Regions from separate parts of the Homo sapiens genome. Here all the other regions are linked to region 3. The links come from fine-mapping of genetic effects on gene expression. A gene starts in region 3. Each other region holds a variant in brackets. All regions are shown on one strand. Distances are between the middles of the regions.

What was found. PIP is the estimated chance that this variant, and not a neighbour inherited with it, causes the effect.
Region 1: its variant is fine-mapped to the expression of NUAK1 in whole blood (TOPMed, PIP above 0.99).
Region 2: its variant is fine-mapped to the expression of NUAK1 in whole blood (TOPMed, PIP above 0.99).
Region 4: its variant is fine-mapped to the expression of NUAK1 in cerebellum (GTEx, PIP above 0.99).

What each region holds. Positions count from the first base shown.
Region 1 is chr12:106,108,819-106,114,883 of GRCh38, forward strand. All of the region lies in intron 1 of NUAK1 (NUAK family kinase 1), which reads right to left. Among named protein-coding and RNA genes, the nearest start is that of NUAK1, 27 kb to the right of the region's middle. RefSeq lists an enhancer at 1-293. The variant C/A (reference allele first, on the strand shown) is at 3,242.
Region 2 is chr12:106,069,384-106,075,448 of GRCh38, forward strand. NUAK1 (NUAK family kinase 1) reads right to left here. Exons shown (of 7, transcript NM_014840.3): 5 at 3,341-3,460; 6 at 1,391-1,523. Among named protein-coding and RNA genes, the nearest start is that of NUAK1, 67 kb to the right of the region's middle. The variant T/G (reference allele first, on the strand shown) is at 3,250.
Region 3 is chr12:106,135,991-106,142,055 of GRCh38, forward strand. NUAK1 (NUAK family kinase 1) reads right to left here and starts at 2,964. Exons shown (of 7, transcript NM_014840.3): 1 at 2,424-2,964. The coding sequence starts at 2,663. RefSeq lists enhancers at 1,393-1,894, 4,286-4,905.
Region 4 is chr12:106,045,818-106,051,882 of GRCh38, forward strand. No RefSeq gene overlaps it. Among named protein-coding and RNA genes, the nearest start is that of NUAK1, 90 kb to the right of the region's middle. The variant C/T (reference allele first, on the strand shown) is at 3,539.

The DNA.
Region 1 (6,065 bases), 27 kb before region 3:
CCCACTTGCTGATTCCCCCTAACAGTCCAGCGAGGCGGAGGGTCCCATGGTGCAATCGCCAGGGGATGCTTTCAGCTGGGTGTGAAAAGGAAAGTGCCCACATTCTCATCAAGCCTTGCTCAGCACTGAGGAAACTAAAAGGGCTCCATAAATGTTAATAAGCATAGTGGCTGTCTCTCCACAAAAATTTTCCCTTTTCCTACAATGATTTTTCCACTGAAAATGTAAAAGAGGGTGCATTCTGCTCCCCTGTTTCAAAGGGGTGACAGGAAGTCAGGAGGAGACAAATGCTAGAAATCACTCTCATCTGTGCACCTGCCAAGGCTGGAGGGAAGACATTCAGCTCTACTCCCAGAGTGGTGGCGGACCCATCCAAGGTTCAGACAGCCGGTTAATGACAAAACAAAAAAGCACTACTACTACTAATAGTAATGGCCAGTATTCATTAGCCACTTAATATATGGAGCAGACACCGTGCTGAATGCTTTACATGCCAGGGATCTTTGCACCCTTCTCATTTAAGCCTCAGCTTCACACCACCCTCTCAGGGAGATCCTTCCTGATCCCTCTAGCTGATAAGGCCACACTTATGGCCACCTCCCTCTCTCTATACCCTTCCCATTTTATCTTCTCTGGAGCATTTCACACCAACTACTTTATTAGCCACATATTCAGCCTGTTTTTGTAGGACCCAGGGAGCTAAGAATGATTGTCATATTGTTTAAGGGTTGTTAAGGAAAAAAAAAAAAAAAAAAAGAAAATCTCTAACGCAGCTCCTGCAAAAGTATCTGCTTCAGGAAGTTGAAGGATACACTGAGCCAGTGCACAGACAGTATTGCATAATGCTTAGGAACATGGCTTTAAGTCCAGGCTAAAATCACCCTCTAGCTGTGTGACCCTGGGCAGGTTACATAACCTCTCTGTGCACCAGTTTTCTCATTCATCTAGTAGAGAAATAATAGTACCTGCCTCATAGGTCCTGGTAAGGATTACACATCAGGTGCTCAAGAATACACCTGGGCCAGGGGGTAACTGCTAAATAAGTGTCAGTCTTTTTTAACCCAGAGTGAGTGTTCTGTAAGTAGAACCTTCCCTTCTTCCTTTCTTTTTCAGAGCAAACTTGAATTCCTCCTGGCTCCTCAAGAGACAGTGAGTGGAGGTCTTAGGGACATGTTTTCATAGTACATAAAGGACAAGAGCATCTCCATCCTGGGTCTTTACATTGCAACCTCATCTGAAATCAGGAAGATCAGATCAGCTGGTTACACACCATTATCAGCAGGGCTCCTGAGTCCAAACCAGACAGGAGGATGAACATCTTGAACCCAAAAAGCAATCCCAGGAGCATTTCTCCACCCGCTCCCACACTGTCTCCTTTCACCATTCAGCTGAACAGGGCACAAATATGTTCCTACTTAAAATCAAAACTCAGCCTCAAGATATTCACACTTCAGCCTTTATGAAATTTGACTGTTCATCCACTTGTTCTTTTTGAAAACCTACCAAGTACCGGCTACACAAAAGGGAGCCAGCGCGACTGCTCCAGCCCTCAAGGTGGGAGGTGGGGTGGGGAGGGTACGGGCAATAAGCAAAACTCACACCAGTAATTACATAATTACCCTCATGGCCAGGGCTACCAAAGAAATGCACAGACATGCCCGGCATTGCGGAGGAAACCTCCTCTCCAGTTTTCCTCAATTCTCACATCTACAAAGAAACACAGAGGTAAGGAAGGGGCCCAGCAGGAAGAGATTACCAAATGTCTGAAATCACACACCCTCCACCCCTAAAAATCCCATTTGTTCCTGTACAAGTCAGAGAGCCTGAGAGGAGGAGGGAACTCAGGTGTTTGAGCCCGACTCACAGTACAGCCACATTCATAAATGTTCCCAAGTCTAGACAGTACCATGTGCCTTATAAAATGGTCTGCTTTTAAATAAGGCCACCTTATGGTTTAATGTTTAAACCTTCTGCAGCAGCAGGTTTGGTGGAGAACCTGTGAATCCCGCCCTGCAGTGCCTGCCTGTTTCAGAGGCAAACTCAGCCCAGCCAATTCTGTTACATGCAACAGGCACAGCCTCCTCTTGAGGGTTGGAGGTTTTTCCTTTTTTGAATAATCACCAAAAACCACCTGCTCTGTGGCCTGCTGGGCATCCTCTCCCACATTGGCTGCTGTGGGTGTTCAGAGCTTGGTGACCTAGGAAGGGCTGGGGGATGCAGAGTAGAAGAGTAAATGCTCAGACTGTCACCGGCTGGGTGACCTCAGGCAAGCCCAAACTTCCCAGGTCTCGGTTTCCTCACCTGTAAAATGGGGTTACAAAATCCTGTTTCTTGGGGTTGTTGTGAGGAGTGGAAACTAGGTAAGTAAAGGCCCCAGCACACAGTATTCACTGAATGGCAGTGATTATAAACCACACTTAAGAGGTAATGAGCCCACAGCAAATCATATCATAGGTCTCTTGGCTCCTCTCCACCCCCACACATATCCTCCCCTCCCCACATTTGCACAGTGGCAAAAGCAGGTTAAAATTAATATCCGGCCAGCCCCAGGGTGTCCTGGTGTCTTATGGAGAGGACGCCTGTGTAGTGTAGGACCAGCCTTGGGGGCGTGGCAGAGAGTCTGGGCAGGTTGTATGTCGTCGAGGCTCTAACCAAGAGAATCCCTGCCCTCCTCCTTTTGCAACCATCTCCCTGCATGCTCATTCATTGATATAAGCTGGACTTCAAGGAGTATTCTTGAAGTGCCTCTCAAATAGGAGTCACCCATGCATCTTGAAAAAGTGCAGATTCTGAATCCATAGGTCTGGGTATCCAGCCTGGGATTCTGCATTTCCAGCAAGGTCCCAGGTGATGCCAGCCCCAGGGACCACACTTGGAGTAGCCAGGTCTTAGTGCTTCGTCTTTGACCCTCAACATTTTTAAATCAGTGGCAATATTCTTAATAATAGCAATAATTAATATTTCTTAGGTGTTAATCATGTGCCAGTGGACCTTATCTCATTTAAGCCTACCTACAATCCTATTTTACAGATGAGAACATTGAGGCCAGGAAAGATAAATATTTCCCAAAGTTACATAGCCTGTAAAAAAAAAAAAAAAAAAAGTGGAGCTAGAATTCGAGCCCAGAGGCTGCTGATTTTTAAGGCTATGAATAAAGTTGGGATGAATAGAAAACATCACAGGGAACAGAATCTCCTGTAGGATCCGAAAGGGTCCCTAAAGCCTAGTGAGATGGACCCCC[C/A]TCCAAGCAGATGAAGTTTTACAGGGTCATATGTGAGGTCCCAAAAGGAGGGACTGGAGGGCTGAGCAGCAGGGAAGAAACACAGTCATAAATATGGCATTAGCATCACTTAGTGAGAACAAGTTTGCATCCTAATCCCAGCAACACGAGCTGGCAACTTCCCTGCCATTCACAAGGTGTGATCTCATACCCAGGCACGTTCCACGGGAGCTGCAGGGCACGAAGTCAGAGGCAGCTCAGGGGATCTCTCCTTACCTAGGAGCCCAGAGGCCGCCTGCAGCAGGAGCAGGCAGCCAAGCCCGGCTGGAGGCTGTAAAGTGCTCCTGCTCTTGCCTGGGAGATGCACAGAGTGTGGGGCAAGGCACAGCCCCACCGAGGCCACACCGGTCCAAAGCTCCCAGGATCACCATGTGGCTTTCACTCAAAAAGCCTCTGGCCGAGGACAGTCACCACGGTGATGCCACCCATCTTGCAAACAAAGCCCCTAATTAATTAAATGACCCCGGGCTCTTTATGGAGGGGCCTGGCCAACTCAGAACAACACCCCAGCAAGTTGCTGTGATGCAACGGGCCCCATGGGAACCAAGCCAGCTCTGCCTGGGGGCCCATGGGCCTCTTCTTCCCTTCCTCTTTAGCCTGTTGGTTCATGTCCTACATGAATGTATTTCAGAAAGAAATGGATTGGAAGCCAAGAGTTGTATCAACAGGCTCTGAGGCGAGGCACTGAAGCCAGGGAGCATGGTATGTGTAGCTAGGAGCTTTTCCTTCAAAGAGTGGCATCCCCTCACTGGCCCTCATCAGCCCTTTAATGTTGTAAGAGGTTCTGAAAATTTAATCCTCTGTAACTTGGTTCTCAAACCTCTATTTCTCAAAATTCTACATAAAAGAGATGATGATTCCTGTGATGATATTGATTTCTCTCCTGCCATAAAAAATGCATTCTATTTTCAGAACATAAAAAACAAAGCAGATTCGTGCTTGACTGGGCCTGGGCCAGCTCAGGAGGACCTCAGGGCTGGGACATTTTTATCTACAGGGACAGTCATTCCTTGGTCTCTAAGACTCACCCCCACCCCTCTCCCCTTCAAAGACTGAGCTAAGAATGTCATTGCAAGTGGTGATGCCACAAGGGAAGTGGAATTAATGACTAAGAAACCGTGGGCAGATTCACACTCCCTGTTGAGGTTTGTAAACATAAGATACAAACCGTGGCTGACCAGGCAAGAACCAAAGAAATAGCAAAAAGGCCACCGGAAAGTTCGTGCTGAGTGGGCATGCCAAAAGTGAGCCACAAACCCGCCTGAAAAGGACAGTCAGAGACTCTAGAGCACTATCTGTCCAAGGGTGGTGAGCAGATCACCTGCCTCCGATCCCCTGGTTAGGGGGAAAGGGGAAACTGATTGCTAAAATGCAGATTCCTGGGCCCACCCCAGAGCTAGTGAATGAAGGTGGCAGTGTTCAGGGTAGGGGGCAGACCTGGTATCAGCATTCTTTACAGCCTCCCAGGTGATTCTGCTGCACTCTGAGGTTTGAGAGCAGTCACCTTAAAGCAGGGTAAATGTGGCCCTGACGACACCTATTGTTCTGTAGCTTAAACAGGAAGCAGTTATATTACATACTAGATGACTGATGAAAATTAATGAACCTTCCATTTATACACAGAGGAATTAAACACAGGCTTCCTTGAGGGGGCTCAGTGACTTGAATTAATTTACCCCTGGTAAATGGAAAGTTTGCTTCCAATGGGTATCTCCCTAGTCCCAGCCCAAGGAGGGCCTGTGGATGAAGTGATGCCAGGGAATGTGGGTGTGGATGGGTTACTTCACAGTCTACACATAACCCGGAGCACGAAAAAGCCTCTGGTAACACAAGAGACGCTAACACAGACAATATCAGATTCAAAGAAAGACTGAAAATGCCAGGCCATTTAGCTGAGACTGGAGTTGCCAAGCAGCTGTTTATTTTTGGACGTTCACGTCTCTGAAGCCAAATGCAACACCAAATCAGAATTCTAAAGTGCAACTGTTTTTCTTCCAGGTTACAATTGCCCTGGGAAGGGAGAGAAAGGGCTGGGCCAGAGGGCTGAGGTTGCTTACAACTTGGACAGCCTCAACTGGTAGCATCTGATCACTCTGACACTGTTTATAACAAGGCTTGGATAAGCTTAAGGTTGTGCAACTTTTATTTATCAACCTCCAAACCCAGAAGAACCCGAGCCAGTACTGCTAAGAAATCCAGCATCTGCACCTTGGGCTTGTCATCAGTCACAGCAACCCAGCCAAGGCGACTCCTATAAGGAGAGGGACTCGGATAATCACGCCACCGGCTCAGTTTCCTCACCTGCAAATGAGGATGATGATGGTACCAACCTCACAAGGTTGCTGTGGCAACATGGCAGATTGTGTATATGATGGAAGGCAGAGAAGGCAAATAGTACCTACGGCAGAAGCCAAAATGAGGACTGTTATCATGAGTAGATGTTAGAGCTGTAAGGACTTAGAATGCTCTATGCCAATCTCCTCATGTTACAGATGGGGAAACTGAGTCCCAGGGAGGTTAAAGTACATACAGGCCCCAAGTTCACGAAGTTATCAGCAGCACTGGAATTGCAACAAGAGAGTCCTGATTCCCACTCCAGGAGGGATAAACACTCTGAGCAAGGGGTCCTTCCTAATCAAATACTAAGCCACAGTGAGCAGCAGGGCTGAAACTGCCACAAAAAAAATTCAACATTTACATGGGAGGCTGGCTCCAGTCACAGCCAAGTCCCCAGAACTGTTGCATCATTAATAAACCGAGATGGGAGTGGCAGATACTCTTCAGG
Region 2 (6,065 bases), 67 kb before region 3:
GAATTTTTATTGGTGATTCCTCTTTTTAAATGCCTCCCTAAAACAGTGCTGAAGCACTGTTCAGTGTTCCTAAGCTCAAGAAGGCTGTGATGTGCCTTATGGAGAAGATAAGTGTCTTAGATCAGTTTTGTTTAGGCATGAGTTACAGTGCTGTTGGCTGTTGAGTTTGATGTTAATGAATTAATAATATAGATTAAATAAGGTGTCTTTAAACAGAGACACACATAAAACAAGGTTATATATCAATCAGTTAACAAAAATATTGTGAGCAGAGGCTCTCAGGAACCTAACCCTCTATTTCCCCTAAGAGCAATGGTTCAATATTCACAAATTCAGTGTTTGTAGCAACTTTGTAGAACATAACTACTATGAATGAGAATCAACTGTGTATGTGTAGGTATACAGATATACATATATATATATGCGTGTGTATAGTATGTATATAAATGAAGTGCCAATGTTAACTTCATTTGTTAACAAAAATGACCAATGATGGCCAGCTGTACACACTCTCTATACAGGCATGATATTCCCCATCAAGAGATGAAGCTCATGACCGTGGTTGTCTTGACCAATAGAACACAGCAGATGTGACACAATCTGGGTACAAGCATGGACATGGCACTGGCACTCCAGCCTGGGCAACAGAGCGAGACACTCTCTCAAGAAAAATTTTAAAAAAAGAAAGAAAGCTCGGCAACTTTTTATTCCTCCTTCTTAGAACCCCAAGCTGCCACTGTGGGGTGGCACCTCAGAGAGCACTGAGGAAGGTCCACCATTCAGCCCCAGCAGCAGCCCCAACTGCCATCTGCTTACAACTGTAGGAGAGGAAGGCCATAAGAGCACTTCCCAACCCACAGGGGTGAAAGAGATGATTTCATGGTTGTGTAAGCCACTGAGTTTGTTTTGTAGGGGCAGATGGGGTAGAGTTGTTACACAGAAATCAATAATGAGACAGAACCCATGAGCCATGCCCCATGCCAGTGGCACAGTAGTGAGAGACAGAGCAGTGGCCACCCTCACAGTATTTACATTCTCAGGTGAGTGGTTTCTATGTCTACTCAGACTGGGAGAGACCTCATCTAATATCTTTTCCAACGTTTTTATTTATGGTGGAGAATCTGAATCCAAAGAGATTAAGTGACTTGTCCAGATCCACAAAGCAAGCAAACAGGACTCCTAGAAGGTGTGCTCTGAAAATTTCCTTTGGGAAGGTTTGGGGAAAGCAGCCTAATAAGCCAGTTTTGCCAAGGATGACACTTCTGGGAAGAAGAAAGAGGAAAACCAGGTGACTCCAGACAGACATACTAAAACAAAAGCAGAAAATAAGAGTTGGGTAAGCAGATCTCTCTCCCCTCCACCTCTGACCCTCCCTCCACAGGGCACGCACCTGAGGGCTGTGTTGGCTCCCGGTACTCTCCGCTGCTGATTTGCCGAATGAGGTTTTTGTGATCGAAACCATCGAAGGGCATTGTTCCATAAACAAGAGTGTAAAGCAACACACCCAGGGCCCAGCTGTCCACCTGGAGCAGAGAGACAGCACATATAGGAGAGCTGGGAAACAGATCCCAAGATGCCTTCCAAACCATTAGCATCATAGCCTGTGAGCAGCCACCCCCAGCAGCCCCAGGAACTGAATTTAGCACCTGGAAGATAGGTTCCTAGTGCAGCCTGACACCTGACAGCAATGCAGCTGGGACCTGCTACAGAGCCTGACCTTTCCATTCTGAACAGAGGCCAGTGGTCCCAACTAGTAAAGAACTTTCTTAAACAGATTATCTTCTTTAATCCTCACTACAATTTTGTGAAGCAGTTAGAGCCAGGACTATTTTCAGCCCCATTTAAAAGATGAGAATACTGAGGCACGAAGAACCTAAATGGTTTCTCCAGAGGCCCTGCCCCAGTGACGGAGGTAAAACTGGGATGCGGGGCTCTTCATTCCTAATCCAGGAATCAATTCCTTCCTGCACTTTCTTCAAATGAATCAGGAATTACAAACTGAAATCTTAACAGATATACACAAAGCAAGAAAGAATTGGGGTTATGACATAGAGTGTTGGGGATGGAGACAAACTGTACAGTACATTCACCCGTCTTAGGCAGACAGCCTCTCCTTAGCTAATTGCTGCCATGTAGTAACATGGGCCCAGCACTGCTCGATTCTTTGGTTTTACAAGAGAAGTCAGAAACCAAACTTTTACATGAAATCTCCCAATTATTACATGTTTGTTCAATTTTTTTAATAAAAACTAAGGTGGCCAAATAAAGGAGTTTGCTGACCAGATCACAGACTGCTAGCCTGGAACCTCAAAAACAGGTCATCGAAGACCAAAATATTCATTATCTATGAGAAATTTCGTGTCGAGTTTCTACAAGTTTGTAAATTGAGTTCTATGCTCCTCCCTCACATTCTTATTTTAGAAAGACTTTCTCTTCATTGCAGTTAATAGATGGTCTTGGCATCCTTCTCTTTACCCTTCAGCCCTGCCCCCAAACACTCTCAAACACATAAATATTTGAAAGAAAACATTTCAACACACTGAGCAGCTGCTATTTAAAGGATACTGAGTGGATGAACTCTGAAAAGAGAACCATCTTTCAAAAAGAGAATCATCACTCACAACTCACTCATTTTCAAAATAAAATTTCCATATACCCATATCTTACAGTGGCCCTTGAAAGCGCTAGCATGTAGGGAAATGTATTTCTCATGAATTAGAAGATGTCATTAAAATGTATTTCCTTAGTCAGATATGCATGCTGCCAAAAATATATACAAAAAAGATATTTACCCCAGAGTGAGGCAATTTTTTGTTTGTTTGTTTTGTCTGTTTTGATATAATAGGGAAAAAACTAAATGTTCACATCTAGACATTACTAAATAAATTTTGGTATATTCATTGATAAAATGTCATTAAAATCATGTTTTTAATAATGAATTTGGAAATTGCCACAAGATAGTTTTCATAGTAAAGGGCAAGATATACATACGTGTGTCACATACATATGTATATCTTGCCTTTTATTAACTTGATCTCAATTATTTTTGAAATGCAGAGATCTACATTGGGAAAAGTTTAAAAGTCACTAGAGTTTTAAGTGATTATCTTTTCTAGGGGGATGGCAGGTACCTTTATTTTCTCCTTTAGGCTTTTCTGGGTTTCCCAAATTTCCTCCCAGGAGTATACATTAACTGCTTTTATAATCGTATAAGGAAACGTTTTCCTTGCTGGCTTTTTTAGGCTCTGT[T/G]TTTTTAAGCATTTCTCGAATCCAGTTTTTGCCCTTCCTCCCTCTTCTCCCTCCCCTCCCCTGCCCCATACACATTGGGAAAGCTGCTCACCTCTGGCCCTCGGTAAGGTCTCCCATTGACAATCTCAGGAGATGCATAGAGTGGACTCCCACAAAACGTTTGTAAGAACTTATCCTTCTGGTACAGGTTGGAAAGCCCAAAGTCAGCAATCTACAAAGAGAAGCAAGACCCAGGGAGACTTGTTAGCATTCCAGATTATGTCTGTGTTGGATCAGTTCACACCACACAGCACACAGAGTGGATGAAGGGCACCTGGGTGGGTCTGCTGGCTGGATCGCCATTTTCTCTCCAGCCCTGAGTCTTCATAAAGGACCACTCAGCCCAAGCAGGTCAGTGTTTCCTAGCTGCAGTCCTTGGCATCCATCACAAGTTCTACCAAATCTGCAGACTACAAGCTCTGCAACTTACTTAGAAATTACTCTTTAAATGGATGCTCTATTTAAACTTTAATTTAGACTTGCTTTGAGAAATAACATTCACAAAATCACTGGCTTGATGTTTCTGATGAACATTAAAGTGTGTAACTATTAATTTAAGAATTCTCCCTCTGTGGTCTACCCAATTATGCTGCATCTGCGGTGGTGTGCATATCACACTGCGGAAAAACCCTGACCTACACAACTGGTGATACCACCTCTGTATCCACTCACACCCTGATCAGAACTGTATTTTGCCTGTCTTGTGACTCAAGATGAAATGGACTAATTGACTCACAGCATTGGGTTTTGAGTCATCATATTTCAGTCCCAACTCTGCTCCTATCTGTCACTTAATGACCTTGAGCCTCAGTTTACCCACCAGAAAATGGGAATCCATGATCCCTTCCCTGTTCTAGCTCACAGGATCATCATGAGAATAATAAGAAAAAGAAATCAATCGAGATGAGACCTTGGCCAGGCGGATCACTTGAGGTCAAGAATTCGAGACCAGCCTGGCCAACATGGAAAAACCCCGTCTCTACTAAAAATACAAAAATTAGCCGGGCGTGGTGGTGCATGCCTGTAATCTCAGCTACTCGGGAGGCTGAGGCATGAGAATCACTTAAACCTGAGAGGCGGAGATTGCAGTGAGCCAAAATCACACCACTGCACTCCAGCCTGGGCGACAAAGCGAGATTCAATCTCAAAAAAAAAAATAAGATGACACCGTGAGTGTAACAGTGGTTCATAACCTTCAAGTTTGATGCAAATGTTTCATCTAGCCTTGTTTTCATTGTACTCCACACACCTTGGAGTCATTCTCTTCTCCTTTGGTTTCTTGAAGTGTTTTATGTGTTATCATTTATGACAGCACTTTTACATATATATGTATATGTATATGTACACATATGTACAAATATACACATATACACATATATACATACATATACATATATATATTTGCTTTCCCTACCAGACTCTGAGTTTCCTGAGGCAGTTGGCAGGTTCCACATCCTCCCCTTATCTTTGTATCATCCACTGCTTAGCACCTGCCCACACCCAAGAAACACTTGTCACTGGTACAGGCATTATATTTTGAAAAGCACAAGATAATTAATATATAATGCAAAATAATAATAATAATAATAAACTTAGTTGCCACTTTTTGAACAACTTCCAATTATCAGGTACTGCTCCAAACACTTTATTTAATCTAATCTTAACAAAAACCTGGTTTACACAGCAATGTGAATGCCTTTCATGCCTAAAAAAGGTTAAAATAGTCAGTTTTATGTTATGTCCACTTTACCACACATTTTTTGAAAAACTCATTTAACAGATGAGGAAATTGAGGTTTAAGGAGTTTGAGGTTACTCATTTAAGGAGATGAGTAACTAATATGCAGCAATATAAACCCCCGTGTCTCTAAAGCTTCAAACCACAGTGCCACCCTGTCCCTGGGTCACCTGTATATTTCACTCCACTCTAAGCCAGCCTTGCAAGCTGAGCCCCTGTAGGTTTCCATCATTCTCCAAGCTGATTTCCATTTGAGGCTTGGAAATGAGCTGCATGATTCACATGCCCAGAGAGAGCCCAGCCTGAATACCACCGAGGCTCTGTGGTGGTCACAGCCCCTAGAAGCAGCCTATTTTGTAAAAGTCATCCCTGAATGAATGGAATGTCATTGAAAGCAGCTGGTGTACAACCAGCCTCAGAAAATGCATTCTCCGGGCTCAGATTGCACTTCATTGCCCTGAATTCCACTTTCTTATCAAGGCCCCTGACTTGCTTGCAGGAAGTTGGTTGGAAGCTTTATGAAGTGTGCCCTGTCAATCAGAAGAGGCATGGAATGGCTACGCACAGGAAAATGCATTCTCTTCCCGCCTGGCAGTGCCTGGGGCACCATATGAGCTTCCAAATACACGTGCGTGTGAGAGGCACCCGCTGCACATGCACACACTCACACCAGGAGTTTTCATTCCAAGTCTGGGCAGCCTCATTTGCTCTGTAGCCGTTCTGGAGAAGTGTGTTTATGTTATGGCCCACTCCTATCCTCACAGACTGATGTTTATCAGCCTCTCCCAGTAAAACTGTCATTGCCACTGACACAAGATTAATAGAAATCTAGATTAGCCTGTGTTCTTGGCACTTCGATGGGAAAGCAGTATTAATCAACACACACACACACACACACACACACACACACAGAGAGAGAGAGAGAGCGTTCTCAGATCTTGAGCCATTCAAACTTAGGCTTCGGCTCTAAGATTTAATGCCATACGGAACTTATATCAACTATTGATAAGAGGGGAAATGGCCACTGGTTATGAAACCTC
Region 3 (6,065 bases):
AAGTTCTTAACACCATCTGTGAGCAGTGTGCTCAGCAGGGGGAGGACGGGGGGCCAAGGAGGACTTTCCTTCCCCAAACCTCAGTTTTCCCATCTGTTTTATGCAAGGTTTTTACCCAGGGATCTGGCTAACATTCTGTAAGCTCAGCTATCAAGGAGAAAGCAGCCCCATGAATAAACGAAGCATTTTAGAGACTGTCAGTTTCTGGGCGTGGGTCTGCTGCCAGATTTAAAATCTTTACATAATTTTGGGGTAAAACAAGAGATTTAGCTGAAATTAATAGCACAATGGGAAAATGAACTAGGGCTGAACAATAACACAGCGGGACTTCAGATTTGCGGCTGGTAAAGAAGCCTCTCTCGTTCTCAGGGCGCCCCCTCGTGGCCGCTTGACTAAATCCTGACGGAATGTTCAGTTTCTGCAAATACAGAGAAAGACATCCCCCAAAAGAGAAAGGCGGACTCCTGCCTACTGATGCAAATCCCTTTCACTCTAACCTAGTCTGTGGATCAGACAGCTCAAGAACGCCTGACAGGAAGTCCCACTGACGCTCAGAAAGGCGTCTGCCATAAGACAAGGGTTCGTTCGTTAGAAAGGTCTGAGGTAGTGCCCCAGCATTTAGACTTTGGGGTCCCTTCACAGACCCTAGACACACCCTTACCACTTCAACAACCCCTCATAGCCTCACATTCTCAACCTGCAGCTCGAACTGCGTCTGTTTTTCATTATTCTGCTTCCCACCTTCCCAGTGCGATTCTTCAGCAGCTATTAAGACAACATGAGCAGGGATCTAAGCTTAGTTTTTGCTTATTCAACATCCAGCCTGGGGAATATCACCTCAGAAGAAAAGCATGAATGAAGTGCACGTTTCCCAGCCTCTTCTTCCACAAACCTGAAATTGCCTTCATCAGAGGCCACCCTTACAACCCTCCCCTTTAACAATTTCATCCTACGAAAATGGCACCTGCCCAGAGTGAATTCTCAACTACTTGCTTGCTGTAGAATTTATTACAGAGCCAGCTTTAAAAAGAAATGTACGCCATCTCAAATTTCCAATTAATTGATAACAGATTTTTTTTTAAAATAACGTTATGGGACGAAGTTATATAGACCCAAACATCAAATCTGAGAAATGGGTTGGGAGGGCGTTATCCGGGTATCCAGATATTTGAGAATTTGGGGACTGAACTTTGCTGACTGGCACCCCCATGTTTTTTTCACAGAACTGTTCCTGCCGAAATGCAAAAGAAACATGTCAATACTAAGCTGCTATTTTATTTGACAGCTCATTTTCCTTTTTCCCTGCAGTCATTTGTTGTTTATAAGCAAACCTGAGCCTCCAAAACACCCCCAAAAGTGCACACAAGGAGTCCCATAATCAGTTTCTGACTTTGGCCCTAAATCGATTAGAATACATCTGATCTGCTTCAAATCAAAGAACCATGTTAATTTTCTGCCACACACCACACAAAATCTTTCTGCAACAGTCAGTCACTTTGAACCCAACTCTCTAGCCACAAGCAGTGTGGATTTCAAGGGCCTGTTCTGCAGAAGTGAAAATAACAACAAACCAAGGCTGGGACAAGGCAGACAGACCCCAAGGCACTCAAAGCACTCCTTGGAGCTGTGCAAATGGTGCCAGGACCCTGGCAGGGTGTCAGCTGTCACAAGAGCAGCGGGGCCAGACCCCTTCAGCGGTTTGGTAGCCCTGCAACCAGGAGCTGAAACACAACTGAGCCTGCTGCAACTAAGCACAGCTATCTCTGTAGCTACCCATGCCCTGGACATTTCGGTCCTCCCAAAGCCATGATGCAAACTGTTAGAATCCTCAGGCTTGCAGTAGTCTTTATTTTTGCTCCCTAACCTTGTCTCAAAAACAGGCAAGAGTCGCCCTCCCTTGCAGTCACAGCAGTATCAGGGCGATGCAGAGTCTGAGTGGGAGGATGCAGAGCAAGGAGCTGCGGGCAGATGGGTGGAAGGGGGTAGGGACACCTACAAAACACCGGACTTGAGGGGCTAGCTCCTAGCTGGGAATGTGGTTCTTTGGAGAGTTGTGGAAATAAGACGTTTCGGGGCATGGTCTAAATGAGTGCCTGCGAGGGAGAGAGACCCCGGCCGTCCCAACGCTGCAAAGTGTTTGCAAATCTAAAACATTCCTTTGCTGCTAGGATTAAATTTTTAAAAACAAACCAAAAAATAAAATAAAATATGTGCAGACAGGATGTAACAAGTGTTTCAGGACAGAGACACGCCTGAGTCACGGGGTGCTGGAGAAAGAGTGAGGAGTCTGTCTCGGGGCTTCCCAATGAGCCCCCTCTCTGTCAAGAGAGCCCCAGGGCGCACAGACCCCCGCCTCGCACGCCCTCAGTCCCCGGCCGCGTCCACCCAGCGCCCCCCGCACCCTCCAGGATTGCCCCACTCACCACTCGGCCAGAAAACCTCTCGGTGGCCCGCTTGACTTTGCCGTAGGTGCCTTTGCCCAGGGTCTCCTGCAGCTCGTAGCGGTGCTTCAAGTTGTGCTTGTGGTGATGCCGCTTCACCCCGTGCGGCTTCCTGGGCTCCAGGGCTGCAGTCGCCCCCGCCACCGCCTCTCGGGGAGAGCCCGGCGCCCCCAGCCCCAAGTCGGGGCGGTCCCCCGCCACAGGCGCGGCGGCCCCTTCCATGTCCAAGCGCGGGGCGAGCCGGGCTACAGAGGGCAAGACCGGGCACAGCGCTGGGATGTCGGGGTCCCCACCGAGGGAAGCCGCTGTACGCTCAAGGTCGCCCCCGCAGCATCAGGGAGGCGGCCCGATACCGCTCGGACTGCGGCTCGGTCACTGGCGGCGGCGGGGACTGCACATCTGGCGCCCGCGGCGCGCACGGTCCGCGCACCGCCCCCCGGCCGCGGCGAGCTGTGGAGCGTCGGGCGAGGTGGCGGCGGTGGCAGGGGAGGCGGTGGTGTTTGCAGGAGGGAGGGGAGAGGGTGGCTCGCAGCGCAGGAGGGGGAGTGTTATGTGGGGCGCCGCGCCCCCCAACCCCTCCCCGGGAGGACGCGCAGACGGGGCGGGGGCGGCGCTCGCGCGGCCCCAGGGGAGGGGGAGCGAGGGGCGGTGCAGCCAGGGCTTCCCCCACCTCCCTGCAGCCACCCGGGGCCGGGGCCGCCGTGAGCTGGGAGGGGGATGGGAGCGTGTCGCGACTCGCCCTTTGTGCGGCGCGGCGTAGGCCACGGCGGCGGCGGCGGCGGCGGCCAGGAGTGCTTTGTCCTCGCTGGGCCGGAAGGGACCGGGAAATTCCAAGCCGGGCGCCCCCTCCCCGGGCGCTCTCGGGCTCGCCAGTCGCAGCTACCGCGGGCCCTCCGCCGCCTCGGGCTCCGGGGCCGGTCGCTCGGCCTGGATTCCTGCTGGCGCCGGGGCGGCGGTTGCGGCTGGCCGAGCCCCGGGGCCGGGGAAGAAAGAGCGCCGCGAGCCGGGGGCCGCCGGGACCTGCTCGCGATACGGCCGGGGCCGCCGCGGGCCTGGGCGCCCCTTCATTTTCTTGTAGGTGTCGCCGCAGCCTGGCGGCCGGAGCTGGGGGAGGGGGCAGGGAGGCCTGGTGTTCGGTTACAGGCGGTGACTCACGGACCTTGCCCGCCCGAGGCTGGCACCCCGCGGGGCAGAGCTGCGCCCGCCTGGGGCAACTCCGAGTCCAGGAGAACCCCAAGAGCGGCGCTTTGGCCCCGGCCCCCGCGCCCTCTCCGAAGAAAGGAGAGTCAGGGACGGAGGGAGGCCGGGAGGCTGAACCCCGGGCCCGCCGTCGAACCGCCGGCCCTCCGACACCATCTGGACCCCGGCGGGGACAGCCGCCTGGAAGGGGAGGAAGGCCAGGGACGTGGAAGAGATGGGGCTCTAAAGGCGCCGGGACGGAGCTGGCTCCCCAGAGGCGCCCACCCTGCCAGCGAAGGCCGCCATCGGAGGTGGGCAAACCAGGGACCTGGGGTGGACCAGGACCCCGGGCCTGCTGAGCAACCCGTTTGCTGAGCAGGAGGCGATTTGCAGGCCTCTTGCCTCCTTAGGCCTTGGGAGATTTCCTTTCACTGAAAGGGCCAGATCCTGGCGATGGTGACAGGAACGGTACCCCGCACGGTAAGGGTCAGGCAGGAAGGGCCTCCCACCGCGGCGTGGCTGCCGCCGTTCTAAGAAGAGACCATGAAAAATAAGGAAGAAGGCTAGAGAAAAAGAGGTCTTAGGGAAATTTTTTTTTTTAACAAGTGGTGCAATGTACCAGACTAGGGTGGGAAGAGTGAAGGCTGAAGAAGGTCTGGTGTTCTGCAGATCGCATGGCGGTTCTTTTCCACCAGTGGACCTCACTGGGGCCTCCTCTGCAGCTCTCAGGTGCAGCCCTTCCTCTACATTCCCGCCGCCTTCATTCCTGTCTACCCCTGGTCACCTTACCCCGGACTCCAGCAACAGCCCGCTCTCCCCAACCCTCCCCGGGAGCCTCCTCACTGCTGCCAGAGTAATGGCCTGAAACACTGCCCTCATCCTCCACACGTGTCTCTGCTGTACTCTGACGCGTGATATTCTTACCTGTCCAAACTTTCCTTCTACTGATATTTCACACAAACTTCCCTGCCCCTTCTTCCCTTCCCCAGGAGCAATGACAGAACACAGACACAAAGGCGCATCATGCCTATTCAATTCCTATTCTGTCCACCGCATTTGCAGGGCCTCCCTGCCACCCACCCCCATCCTGAAACTGTTCTGCTTCTATACAGTTTGTGGACGTTGTGCCTATAGATCCCACAGTCAGGATGAGTGGCATGCAGGTTGAGTCCTGGCTTCCCAGAGGATTGGCTGTGTGGCCTTGGTCAAATGACATAACCTCTCAGAGCTTCGGTTTTCTCTTAAGATATGGATTTAGCAGATCTATTGTAGAGATAAACACATTGTGTCTACAGTAGTATTTTAAAATATTTTCTACTTCTTCCCCTCCCCTGCGATGTGGTAGAAATCCACTACCCCATCCTCTTGAAGTTAGATGAGACCATCGGACTTGCTTAGGCCAATGGAATGAGAGCAGAAGTGATTGTGTTGCTTTCACTTGGAACCTTTAGGAGCCAGTGAGCAAATCCCCATGTCTTCTTTTTCCTATCTTGACAATCATGGTGGTACAAAGTTGGAGCCTCCCCAAGCCAGCCTGAGTCTCTGTGTAAAGATGGCAGAAAATCCCAGCCAATCTGCATTGGAAAAGTAGTGTCAGCAAATATTAAACTTTATTTATGTTAAGTCAGTGGGATTTGTTAAAGCAGCATAACCTGGCTTATTCTGGCTGATAGTGTTACTCCCAGATATGTGGGACTTCATCAGTATCTATTGAATCAACAGCATCATCTACCATAGGCTGGTACTGTTTTATGACAGTAAACCCTCCTCTGTAAAGTAGCTGTTTACAATCCCTATTTTCAATTGAAGAAACCGTATCAGAAAGGTTAAGTAATTTCCCAGAGGTTACACAGTTTGTAAATGGCAGGACCAGGATTTAAACCCTACCTGTCCAGTTCCAAAGCTCCCCCTTCTCCTTTCATATATGCCATGCTCCGTCTCCTTAAATGGGAAGGATGAAAAACACCCAGTACAATGCCTAGCACACAGTCATGCCCAGGCACTGGGAGTTCCTCTCCAGACTGAATTCCTACCACGTTTATAATTGGAACCACACTTCAGCACAATGCTATCAGGCATTGTGTGTGAATGTTTTCACATCGATAAAGCATTTTCTCCAACAAGAGCCCAGGCTCCTTGATTAAGAGCTTCAGATCTAGAGGCAGAGTGACTAGGTTCAAATCCCTGTTCCACCTCTTATGATCATCTTGGATAATTGTTTTCCCCCTCTATGCCTCAGTTCTCTAATCTGCAAAGTGGCGATGGTAACTTTCATGTGCGTCTGTGTGAAGAGACCACCAAACAGGCTTTGTGTGAGCAATAAAGCTTTTAATCACCTGGGTGCAGGCGGGCTGAGTCCAAAAAGAGAGTCAGCAAAGGGAGATAGGGGTGGGGCCGTTTTATAAGATTTGGGTAGGTAAAGGAAAATTACAGTCAAAGAAAGGG
Region 4 (6,065 bases), 90 kb before region 3:
GAGTTTTGTTCTCACTTGGACAGGAATGACCCTGTCCTTCAACTTTCAGTCCCTCCTGACTGACACCCTGGTTGGCTGTGGCCTAGTAACATGGGTTAACATCAACCCTCTCTATTTCAGTAATTATTAAAACTAATAATGATGATTAATCATAATTAGCAGTAATTGTAGTCAACCATCCCACTGTACTTTATAATGTATGAAAACAACTTCCCTTACATTATCTCTGCTATTATTTTCCATTTTGCTACCTGTAAAATATCAGTGATATTCACAACGATATCCTCCTCGGAGAGTGATGTGAACACTAAGTGAGATCATGTGTGTCAGATGCCTAGCACAGAGTAGGTGATCAAGAGTTCACATGCTTAATTCCTAAACTCTACTGCATAGGCCTACATGTGTGCAAAACTAGTGAATATTTATGTATCGAATATTTATTTTCTATATTTGAATATTGAATGTATATCTATATTGAGTATACGTATATATTGCATATTTATCATAAATAACGCCTAAATGAACCAATTCTTGTCAGTGCTCATAAGTCACCTTCACAGATGGTTTTTATTGGAGGTCATCCCAGGGAACTTTTGAATTGGGGTTTCCTCTCTGTGGAGCCTGAGCTTGGCTTGTTTCCATTTAGCCTGGTCCTCACACCAGTGACAGTAACTAAACCACTTTTAATCAGTGGCCTATGACTGGACCTGCTCCAGATATCTCAAATCAGGAAATAGATCACAAACGAGGCCTTCTTTTTGTTCTTTCTGTCACTGGCCTGGCTCAGAGCTGGGAGGATAATGGGGCAGGAGAAGAGAGCTGTGTTAAGGATGCCAGATAGGGCTCAGAGTACTGAGTGCACTGGGTGGAGCCCCTAACCCACAGACTGGTCTCTATGATTAGCGTCCATTGTACCCAGGCAGAGTCCCAGGTGGGTGGGATTCCATCTCATTTCCTTTGCAATGCTTGGTGGAGAAGGACAGTAAAGGGGGCAAGGAGAGGCAAGACAGAAGATGAGGTTCCCCAGTGGTGGTCTCATCAGCAGAGCCTCAACATCCCTTGTCTAAATTTCAAGTTGAGAGAGAGTAGGCCATGCTACACAATATATACTAACAAAAGGGGACCAACTCAGAACAGATGTCTGAAAGCATATTTCACTAAATAGGGAAAAATAATTAAAGTTCTGCCATGCCCAAGCCTCAAAAGCAAACGGGTCAGAGCTGTTTGGCCAGCTACTGCTCCCATTCAACCTGTCTCCCCAGAGTTCTCTGAACCACGCACCAGATAGAATCCACCTGCCTCTTCTTTCCTCAGAAAGGATCTGAAACTTGACTGTCACTGCAAGAAGAGGCCACAGGATGTGCATATAAAGTAGGTGACCTGAGTTCAAGTTTGAGCTCTGCCCTGTACAAGCTCAGGATCTTGGGAAAGGAGCTTCACCTTCCTGGCAGCCTTGGTTTCCTTATCTATTAAGTGGGGATAATAGTAGTTCCCTGCTGGGTTGTTATGTGGATTAAATGAGATGGTACAGGATGATTTGCCATTTTCTGTGAGTCATTTTTTGGCTGCACAGCAGTTGAACCTTCTGGGCCTGTGACCCAGCCAGACACACCTGCTCAGAGTTTTAAATCTCAAAGTAATGATCCACAGACGCAGGGACAAGGCAGGATCCATTTAGGCAATACTGTATTCACCAGAACCATCCCATTTTCTAGAGCAGTGGTACCGCTAGCAATGCCCAATGGCCAAAGGCCAGAGCTGGCTGTGGTAGCAAAGCCGCCACAATGCCAGGGGACAGCCAGGGTAGCTGTGGTCCACCCAACACCCTGGCTCTATGGTCCAATTTTGGCTGAGTTCTGGCCACCTTGCTTCCTCTATATTCCCAACTATTTCCCAAGCCTTGTTTTCCAGCCTTCTTGGAGTTTCTGGGAGATGCCTTATATTCTTTCATAAATTTTCTTTCTGGCTTAGATTAGCCAAAGACCCTTTCTATTCCTTACAACTCAGATCCCGGTCTGGTATAGCAGTCAAAGGACTTGGCATGGTGTCTGGTCCGCAGCAAATGTTCAGTGTATGCTAATTTCCCTGTGTGTCAGTGATGTCTCCTTCCTATTTCTGTTCCCTCATAACCATAAACATAATCATTATTATTGGTTTCTGATTTATCTTTCTGGCTTTTTTGTGTGTGTTAGTTTTCTATTTGTATTAGTTTGTATTGGGGCTGCCATAACAAAGTACCACAAATTTAGGGGCTTACAAACAAAAACCATTCATTATATCAGGGTTCTGTAGCTCAGATGTCTGGCATGGCATGGCTGAACTCTGCTCAGGATCTAACAAGGCTGAAAAGGTGCCTGCAGAGCTGCATTCTCTTCTAGAGGCTCTAGGCTGAAGCCCCTTCCAAGCTCACTCGGGTTGCTGAAAGAATTCAGCTCCTTCCAGCTGTAGGACTGAGGTTCCCATTTCCTTGACCTGGGACCCCCTCCATCTTCAAGCCAGCAACAGAGCTTTGAATCCTTCCCATTCTTAAAATCTCTCTGACTTTCCCTTCTGCATTCCCCTTCTGCAATTAAGGGCTTGTGTGATTACACTGAGCCTACCTGGCTAATCCAGGATAATGTCCCTATCTTAAGTCAACTCATTGCTAACCTAGATTTCCTCTGCAAAGTCCCTTTTGCCATGGAAGTAACTAACATGCAATGCCCCCAGAATTAGGGCTGGAGTCTTGTGGGGGCTGTGAGCCTGCCCACTACACTCTCCTTCCCAAAGTCACCTGGAAAATGCCTCCATTTTCTCTTCTTGCTAAAACTGTTGGTATCACCTGGACAATGTTTTCAAGTGATATCTGTGGCAATGTGCTGGAGGAAGCAGAGAAGAGACCAAGCAGTCAGGGACTCGGCTCCAAAAATATCTAAAGAGCTTCAGTGAAAGATGAAGAGAGCGGAAACCAGGCAGAGAAAGCAGAAGGGGCACCGAGAGTGATGAGGAAACCAACTAGAGATGGAGGGAGGGAAAGGAGAGGGGAGGCAGGAAGCAAAGCTGGCTCTTCCCAGCCTTCCATCCAGGCATCCCGTGCCAGAAGGCAAAATGCAAAACCAACAACGAGGAGAGGCAGATTTGCTAAGTGAGAAGAAAGGGATTTTTACTTGAACACGTTGAATTTGAGAGGCCTGAAGAACAAAGTGAAGATGTGTCTCCATGTCCAGGGAGGAGGCAGAGGAAACTTGAGAAAACTCAAGCTAAAATAAAATAAAAAATATATAAAATAAAATTTTAATAGTGAAAGCAAAGGAGAGAGAGGGAGGAGAAACTCAGAGTGGAAAGGACAGGCAGGGGAGGAAGGACGAGAAGCAGTGTCTCAGACATACTGACAGCGCCGCACAGGAGTCACAGCTCCCGGCTCTGGCTGCTCACAACACGTGATTTCAAATTCCCATCTGCTGCAGAAGGCTTTTATGCTTTCATGTGAGTCTGCGGCCCAGCACAGGCCTGCAGATATAAAGGCTGCTTAGGGATGTTCTGGAACTCCAGATGGCAC[C/T]CTGGGATTCCTGCCTACATGCCTTATGCTTCCTGGGCCCAAGAAAGATGCTGCCACCTGAATTCTCCCCCGTTCCTGCCCACCATCTCGAAATGACTCGCACAGCAGCCTCTCCCTCTCTCCCTCTCCTTTCCCCTTTCTGCTCCTTAGGTCTCTGCCCCAGGATATAATGGAAAGACCAAGGATTCTGGAATCTGACCTCTGGAACCTAGGTCAGTATCTTCATCAGCTGTGTACCCTTGAGCAAGTTACTTAGCGTCTCTGAGGCTGATTGTTCACATATAGAATGGAATCAGCAACACCTATCTCAATAGGCCTGTTGTGGGTTAAATGCCTAGCACAGTGCCTGGCAAGAAGGAGAAGCCCAATCGATGTCTGTCCCCATCCTCCAGCCTGGCACACAGGCCTGTGGGTCTGTTTTCAGAGGCAAACAGGTCCAGCCAAAACCCCCAGGGCCAGGATGACTACGCTGAGCACAGCTTTATGGTCGGGGAACTGAGTTGCCATCTGTCTTTGCTACTGATTGATACAATCTTTGGCCCGTTATCACCATGGCCTCACTGAGCCCTGATTTCCTCATCTATAATATAGGGACAGTGACAGCATGCACCTCCACTGAGGATCTCTTATTTGCCCTGTATTAGTCTGTTCTCATGCTGCTAATAAGGACATACCCATGACTGTTTAATTTATAAAGGAAGGAGGTTTAATTGACTCACAGTTCCATATGGCCGGAGAGGTCTCACAATCATGGCAGAAGGCAAGGAGGAGTAAGGTCTCATCTCACATGGTGGCAGGCAAGAAGAGAGCGTATGCAGGGGAACTCCCCTTTATAAAACCATCAGCTCAGCTCTCGTGAGACTTATTCACTATCACCAGAACATCATGGGGAAAACCTGTCCCCATTATTCAATTACCTTCCACCAAGTTCCTCCCAGACATGTGAGAACTATGGGAGCTACAATTCAAGATGAGATTTGGGTGGAGATACAGCCAAACCCTATCATGCCCCTTCAGGTGCATTCTCCACCTGCTCTGAGCCTTGGAAGCTGACCTGTGTCAACTACAGGAAGGGATATCCACCCTCTGACTTCAGCAGAGGTTCAGCAGTCATTTCCCAGGCTCCCTCCCTGCAAGTTCACCTCTGGCTGGCTGCTTTCCCTGGTGACAGCTCCTGTCAAGGAAGCCCTCTTGATAGCTCTCTCCTTCTAGAGTCCAGCAACTGCTCCCTTCCTCACACTGTCATTACTATCTGTGTAGGGAAAAACTCTCTCAAACTTTGCTTTTCTTCTGCTTTCACACCACCACAACAATCATCAACACAGAAGACTTTTGTAACAAAGATGTGGAGATTCGTCCCCACACACCAAGCAGCAGACACCAGTTGGGCATCCTCCAATTCAATTCCAACACTATCTACCTGGAGATAGGGTCAGTCCCCAAGACTCCCTTTCTCTCCTGCACCAAGACACCAGTCACAAGTCTGGACTTCTAGAAGTTCTGACCAAGTGGCTTCAAGTTGGGGTTCCCACGACCCCTGTTTTGGGTTTAATTAATTTGTTAAGGCAGCCAGAACTCAGGGAAATAACTTAAGTTGACTGGTTTATTATAAAGGATATTGCAAAGGATACAGATGAAGAGATACTAGGGTGAGGAATGAGGGGAAGGGGTGCAGAGTTTCCATGCTTTCTCTTGCTTGGAACATGTGCAAGTTCCTGGGTGCACCACCCTCCAGGAACTTCCACATGTTCAGGTATCCAGAAGCTGTTCTTCTGTTGCAAGTGACAAGAACCCAAATCAAACTAATTCAGCCCAAAAAAGGAGAATAACTCTCATCACTGTGAAGTCTCAGGTTAGTGTTTGCTTTGGGGGCAACCTGGCTCAGAAGATCAAATGATGCTACAATACGCATTTCACTTACTCTCTTAGTTCTGTGGTGCTCTTTCTTGGCTTCATTCTCAGGCCATCTCTGTTATCACTTGGTGATAAAAATGGCTACCAGTAGTATCTCTAGGTTTACATCATCCTCATGGTGATTCCAGAAAAAAAAAAAAGAAAGAAAGAGAAGATGATGACAACAATCATCACAAATCCCTCCCCGTCAACATCCATACTTGATCACCCAAATGGCATTGATTGGTCGTGTTTGGGCTTTAGAATGAACACTGAACCAATTATTAGGTCTAGAAGAAAAAAAAAATTGAACTAGTCAGAGTGAGTGAAGACCTTGTCCCTGTAGTGTGAAAGGTAATTACAGCCAGGTGAGGTCCCACTGAATCACATTACCTTGGGAGAAACAGAATCCCAAAAGAAGTGATACAGAACTGACACAAAGCAGATTTCCATATAGGACCATATAGATTTCCACTATAGGACCATTAGGGGCACAGACTATATAGTCAATAAATGCTATCAGAATGGAAACTAAGAGTTCTGTGAGATTAATACTTTCTCCTCTCTCTGCCCTCTCACTCCCATCTCTTTCTCCCTCTCCCCCGAGTCTCTCTGTTTCACATATATATTCACA